2 linked regions of the Homo sapiens genome follow. The protein of the gene in region 1 purifies or fractionates together with the protein of each later gene. This does not show direct contact. Each region holds a gene or a part of one and is shown on either strand. Other genes may lie near its edges.

Evidence for each region. Proteins that work in one complex are often made in the same cells at the same time.
Region 2: the proteins of HERPUD1 (region 1) and CAPN15 purify together in Homo sapiens (affinity purification with mass spectrometry; 3 studies listed by BioGRID and IntAct, with this or other methods). This does not show direct contact.

The regions. Positions count from the first base shown.
Region 1 is NC_000016.10:56,942,142-56,945,364, forward strand, and holds the end of HERPUD1 (homocysteine-responsive endoplasmic reticulum-resident ubiquitin-like domain member 1 protein), read left to right. Parts: coding exon 1-96; intron 97-984; coding exon 985-1,149; coding exon of another isoform or gene 1,150-1,252; 3' UTR 1,253-2,723; downstream 2,724-3,223. UniProt on the Homo sapiens protein: Component of the endoplasmic reticulum quality control (ERQC) system also called ER-associated degradation (ERAD) involved in ubiquitin-dependent degradation of misfolded endoplasmic reticulum proteins.
Region 2 is NC_000016.10:551,712-555,136, forward strand, and holds the end of CAPN15 (calpain-15), read left to right. Parts: intron 1-339; coding exon 340-501; intron 502-589; coding exon 590-819; intron 820-893; coding exon 894-1,060; intron 1,061-1,151; coding exon 1,152-1,330; intron 1,331-1,603; coding exon of another isoform or gene 1,604-1,627; coding exon 1,628-1,805; 3' UTR 1,806-2,925; downstream 2,926-3,425.

The DNA of each region.
Region 1 (3,223 bases):
GGGTGGTTTCCATTTAGACCGAGGCCGGTTCAGAACTTCCCAAATGATGGTCCTCCTCCTGACGTTGTAAATCAGGACCCCAACAATAACTTACAGGTATGGAGCCTCCCACGAAGCCCAGGCGAGCTTGACGTGATATGCCAGGCTCTCCAATCCTCAACCTTTAGATTGCCAGCTTGCGGTTTACCATTTTATTGGGCTAAATATTTCATGATTTGTTCACATTTCTTCTTAGAGCAGCAGCTATTTTTAAAACGTCGAATGTGCCATCACATTCTATCACATATTTTTGACGTGGCAATTTGCATTTTGGCTTAAGTAAATAACATTTTTTTAAACCCACTATTTTGAGCGTTCAGTGGTCTGTAACAGTGTGTTATACCATAAGAACTGGTATGAAGTGGTTAACTACTAGTTTAATAATAGTTGAAGCCTGGGCGTGGTGGCTCACGCCTGTAATCCCAGCGCTTTGGGAGGCTGAGGCAGGTAGATCACCTGAGGTCAGGAGTTTAAGACCAGCCTGGCCAACATGGTGACACCCCGTCTCTACTAAAATTACAAAAATTAGTTGGGCGTGCCTGTATTCTCAGCTGCTAGGGAGGCTGAGGCGGAAGGATGGCTTGACCTTGGGAGGTGGAGGTTGCAGTAAGCCAAGATCACACCACTGCACTCCAGCCTGGGTGACAGAGCGAGACTCTGTCTCAAAAATAATAATAATAGTTGCAGATCTAGTTGTTTCATTTGATATTTGCTGCCAGGAGCAGTCAAAACTATGACAACATCAACACAGTTGTGCTGTGGAAGCCTGAGAAACAGCCCTATCCAGCCTAGGGCATCATTCCCTGGGGTCCTGGCTGCCTGCTGCTGTGCCTATGGGGCAGGGGGCAGGGATTTACCCTGCCCTTTCCTAACATTATTTGGTGTTCATCATAGCCCTAATTGTTTTCTCATTGTTTCATTACCTCATTGTTTCATTACCTGTAGGAAGGCACTGATCCTGAAACTGAAGACCCCAACCACCTCCCTCCAGACAGGGATGTACTAGATGGCGAGCAGACCAGCCCCTCCTTTATGAGCACAGCATGGCTTGTCTTCAAGACTTTCTTTGCCTCTCTTCTTCCAGAAGGCCCCCCAGCCATCGCAAACTGATGGTGTTTGTGCTGTAGCTGTTGGAGGCTTTGACAGGAATGGACTGGATCACCTGACTCCAGCTAGATTGCCTCTCCTGGACATGGCAATGATGAGTTTTTAAAAAACAGTGTGGATGATGATATGCTTTTGTGAGCAAGCAAAAGCAGAAACGTGAAGCCGTGATACAAATTGGTGAACAAAAAATGCCCAAGGCTTCTCATGTCTTTATTCTGAAGAGCTTTAATATATACTCTATGTAGTTTAATAAGCACTGTACGTAGAAGGCCTTAGGTGTTGCATGTCTATGCTTGAGGAACTTTTCCAAATGTGTGTGTCTGCATGTGTGTTTGTACATAGAAGTCATAGATGCAGAAGTGGTTCTGCTGGTACGATTTGATTCCTGTTGGAATGTTTAAATTACACTAAGTGTACTACTTTATATAATCAATGAAATTGCTAGACATGTTTTAGCAGGACTTTTCTAGGAAAGACTTATGTATAATTGCTTTTTAAAATGCAGTGCTTTACTTTAAACTAAGGGGAACTTTGCGGAGGTGAAAACCTTTGCTGGGTTTTCTGTTCAATAAAGTTTTACTATGAATGACCCTGGCAGAGACTCCTGTCATCCTAGCAGTTTACTCTGCGTTTGTTGTATCTAGACAGTCAACAACTGAGTTGTCGGTGTTTAACCTGAATGCTTGTTTTTCAGAAGAGGACTGTTTGTGCCGGTAAGAATGATCAGGTAAGGCCATGAAAGTTTTTGTTGGCGTTTTTGTTTTTGAGATGGGGTCTTGCTTTGTTCCTTGGGCCAGAGTACATTGGCTACTCACAAGTGGGCTGGTAGCTGGCTACAGCCCCAGACTCCTGGCTTAAGCCACCTCCTGCCTCAGCCACCCTGGCAGCTGGGACTACAGGCATGCGCCATCACACTTAGCTTGAAAGTTTTAATTTACTAAGAATATACCTGTGTTTCCCCCCATTTCCTGATTTAAACAGTACTGGCTTATATAGGAACCCATCAAAGTTAAATTCCCCAAATTTAAATTTAGTAAATTTAGTGGTTTCACCTTGGCAAATCTGCAATAGTTTCACCAGCTCAAATTTCATGCTTTTGTAAGCTGAGCTTATGTTTGTGATTTTAATCCTTTAAGTACTACTGTGGTAACTAATCATTTTTTTGTTTTTTTTGGTGGTGTTTTTGTTTTTGTTTTGAGATGGAGTCTCACTCTGTTGCCCAGGCTGGAGTGCCGTGGCGCGATCTCGGCTCACTGCAACCTCTACCTCCTGAGTTCAAGCGATTCTCCTGCCTCAGCCTCCCGAATAGCTGGGATTACAGGTGCCCACCACAATGTCTGGCTAATTTTTTGTATTTTTAGTAGAGACGAGGTTTCACCCATGTTGGCCAGGCTGGTCTCAAACCCCTGACCTCAGGTGATCTGCCCGCCTCGGCCTCCCAAAGTGCTGGGATTACAGATGTGAGCCACCGCACCCAGCCAGGGACTAATCTTTAAAGCAAAGTTTTATATATTTTTACGTGAGTAATGTTATGTGTAGGTGTTCTATTTGGCAAAATAAATCAGCCTTTTCTATCATGATTGTGGTCATTTAAATTAATCCTCATCGGAAACATTGTTTACCTAAGATAAACATTCACTAAACAACTCATAGCAAGACGCTGGGTAGGTACAAAGATGTCTTATGTGTGGTTATGCTTTCAAAGCCAACTGAAACCCTTTTGTAAGGAGTTAAATAGCAAAAAGTTTCAAATAACTGTGTGCCTCTAGAACAGAACTATCAGAAGGCAATGAATATTCACAAATTGTGAAGAGATAGTTTGCTTCAAGGAAGAAATGACTTGTAACTAGAGTAGGTATGAAATGATGGGGGAAAAATGATGAGGTATGAAATGACTCACCTTCTCTCCAGCTCAAGGTAAGAAGGGTGGCAGCAGGAGTAAAAGCTCAGCCACAGGACGTGCTCTTCCTGCCAAACAGCTGGATTCTGCACATGCTTGGGAATGAGGTCCTGCTGGTTTAGGAAAACAAACATTAAGAATTCCCAAAGTCTTGGGTGGAAAAGCCTGTTGCTTTTC
Region 2 (3,425 bases), about 56 Mb from region 1:
GCCGAGTCCTTCTCTGGAGAACAAGCCTGTCCCTCCTGCTGACCTGGGGTGGGGCGGCTTGTTCGTGGCCCAAATGGGACCTGGAGCTTCAGCTCCAAGGTGCCAACCTCAGAATTCAGGTCCACCCAGGTCAGCAGATTCCAGCGCCCTGAAGAGCCGGCCCTGGAGGGCTTCCTATTATAGGCCTCAGGGATGGGCCCCCGGGGGCCGGGCTGCAAGAGGACGGTGACGGAGCAGCTGGCACCTGCTGGGGTCACCGGCCTGTGGTTGCGGTAGGCGCTGAGCCACGGAGGTGTGGGCCGTGGTAGGCTCAGGGCCCCGTCCTCCCGCCACCTGCAGGTACTTCGACTCCGTGGACATCTGTAAGGTGCACTCGGACTGGCAGGAGGCGCGGGTGCAGGGCTGCTTTCCCAGCTCGGCCAGCGCGCCCGTGGGGGTAACAGCGCTCACGGTGCTGGAGCGGGCCTCGCTGGAGTTCGCGCTCTTCCAGGAGGGCAGCAGGTGGGTGCTGCGGGGCCCCATCGGGCTGGGCTGGGCTAGGCTGGCGGCCGTGACCACGCGTGACCCTGGCCCGTGGTGTCTGGCGCAGGCGCTCGGACGCCGTGGACAGCCACCTGCTGGACCTGTGCATCCTGGTGTTCCGGGCCACGTTCGGCAGCGGCGGCCACCTCAGCCTGGGCCGCCTCCTGGCCCACAGTAAGCGCGCGGTCAAGAAGTTCGTCAGCTGCGACGTCATGCTGGAGCCTGGCGAGTACGCTGTGGTGTGCTGCGCCTTCAACCACTGGGGGCCGCCCCTGCCGGGCACCCCTGCCCCCCAGGGTACGTGGCCCCTACCCCAGGCTCATGCCCCAGGCCCACGGGGAGGGCTGCGGTTCACACGCCCGTCCTTGTAGCCTCCAGCCCCTCGGCAGGGGTCCCGAGAGCCTCCCCAGAGCCGCCGGGCCACGTGCTGGCTGTGTACAGCTCGAGGCTGGTCATGGTGGAGCCCGTGGAAGCCCAGCCGACCACGCTGGCCGACGCCATCATCCTGCTCACCGAGAGCCGCGGAGAGCGGCACGAGGTGGGTGGGGGTCCCGGGGGAGGGTGGCGTGGGGCAGGGGGAGTATGCCCCAGCACCTCCCCTGCCCCACAACTGCCATTCCTGTGCCCAGGGCCGTGAGGGCATGACCTGCTACTACCTGACACACGGTTGGGCGGGGCTCATCGTGGTGGTGGAGAACCGACACCCCAAGGCCTACCTGCACGTGCAGTGTGACTGCACCGACAGCTTCAACGTGGTGTCCACACGCGGCAGCCTGCGTACCCAGGATAGCGTGCCACCCCTGCACAGGTGCGCCCCCGCCCCTGCCCCCCCACCCCTGCACAGGTGCCCCCTCCCCTACCCCGCTGCACCCACACCCAACTCGTGCCCCCCCACCCCTGCACAGGTGCCCCCTCCCCTACCCCGCTGCACCCACACCCAACCCATGCCCCCCCCACCCCTGCAGAGGTGTGCTCATACCCCTGCCCCCACCCCTGTACGGGTGTTTGTCACCCCACTCCTGCTCCTGCCCCTGTACAGGTGGGCACAGCCCTGCCCCCATCCCCACCCTGCCCTCCACAGGTCCTCACCGGTCCCCTCCCCCAGGCAGGTCCTGGTGATCTTGTCCCAGCTAGAGGGCAACGCCGGCTTCTCTATCACCCACCGCCTGGCACATCGCAAGGCAGCCCAGGCCTTCCTCAGTGACTGGACAGCCTCCAAGGGGACCCACAGCCCCCCACTCACGCCAGAGGTCGCCGGTCTGCATGGGCCCCGACCGCTGTGACCACCATGCCTGGGGCAGGGGCTGTGCACAGACGGACCCCCCACCCCCACACGCACTTTATGAGGGAGACCCCGACAGAGGACGCTTGAGCCAGAATCTCAGGACCCCGCCCAGGGAGCTGCCAGCCCAGGGCTCAGCTTCCCATGGGCCCCCCGCCCCCCTCCTTCCCCTCCCTGAACCCCACAGTCCGCCTGGCCAGGCCTCCTGGCCGCCACGCAGAATACCTCGAACCAGGCGGGCTGTGAACCAGCCCCGCTCACCTGCCAGCCCCAACACCCGACGGGGGCCGAGGCCAGGCTGCCCCTCCCTGTGGGCTCAGGGTCTCCTGCGGGCTAGGCAGCCAGGAGCTCTGTCCGCAAAACCAAATCTGGGTGTCAGAGGCCAAGACCCTGGGGTGGGATCAGGGACCACCCCTCACGGGGCATAAGGTCAGTTTTCCCCCAGAGCCCGGGTCCCTGTCCCCCACAGGGCAGGCGGGGTCCCTGGAGCCCTGGTGTGGAGCGGCGAGTCCCGGGGCGGTGCCTGTCTCAGAAGAAGGGGCCCTTGGCCAGCCCCCCAGCGACACTATGCAAATCCTGGAGTGCCCGCCAGGATCGAAGCCATGACTGGGTGCAGGCGGGCGCCAGGCCCGCTGTGGGTGGGCACCAGTTCTCAGCACCGCTCACTGCTGCCGGGCACACTGGGACCAGCAGGCTCCTCAGCCAACCCTGTCCCTCGGCCCGGCCCTGCCAGAGAGGGACCCCAGCACATCGTGGGCACGGGCAGGGCTCAGCCGCTCCCACCTCCCCACAGAAGCCCAGGAGTGTGTGGACGTCTGAGCCCAGCTTTCTGCGTGCCCTCCTGGCCCCTCACTCCCGGCAGCGGGCCGGCCTCGCCCCCACTCCCCCTCCTACCCCGGCAGGGGCTTCCGGGGCCTTTTCACCTGGAGAAACATTCCCACTCCCCTTTGGCCTCCCTGTACTCTGAGCTGTGAATATTTTTAACCCTGTAAATACGGCCAGCTCTTGTGACACAGAGACTATTTTATCAATTGTCAGTCCCGTTCCTTTACCATAGGATTCTCCACAGTGGCTTCCGACTCAGGCTCCAATGGACCAAATAAAAGCGTTTTGTTTTGTAATCACGCCTCCTCCTCCTGCTGTTGCCCCGCGCAGGGCCCTGTGGAAGGGCGGGGAGGTTGCAGGTCTGAGGGGTAGGCCCTGCCCAGGCATCCCGGGCAGGCGGACGGGTGGGGGCCCCTGGAGATGGCCGTGGTGGGGTGACTCACAAGCTTGTAAGGGGCAGCCGGCCCTGCCAAATGGACGCAGCCAGGAAGGACGGAGTGACTGGGCGGGGGCAGGGGTCAGACCCTGCGGCCGCAGCCCCAGGGCCGGGAAGGACTGGGCAGACGGGACAGCAGCGCATGCAGCTTCTTCCAGCGAGGCATCCGCACGGGGGGCTCTGTCTGAACCCATCAGTCACCCGGCAGGAGCAGATGGAGTGAGGGGGCGCGTGGGGAGAAAAGTTTCCTGTCCCCTCCCAGCCTCGTCCCAGGGTGGCCTCTGCCCCCACACGGGTGCTGCTGAGCAAAGCGCCCGCTCGGAGGCTCTGCTGTCTCCCTGGACGGAGTTGGGGGCTGGG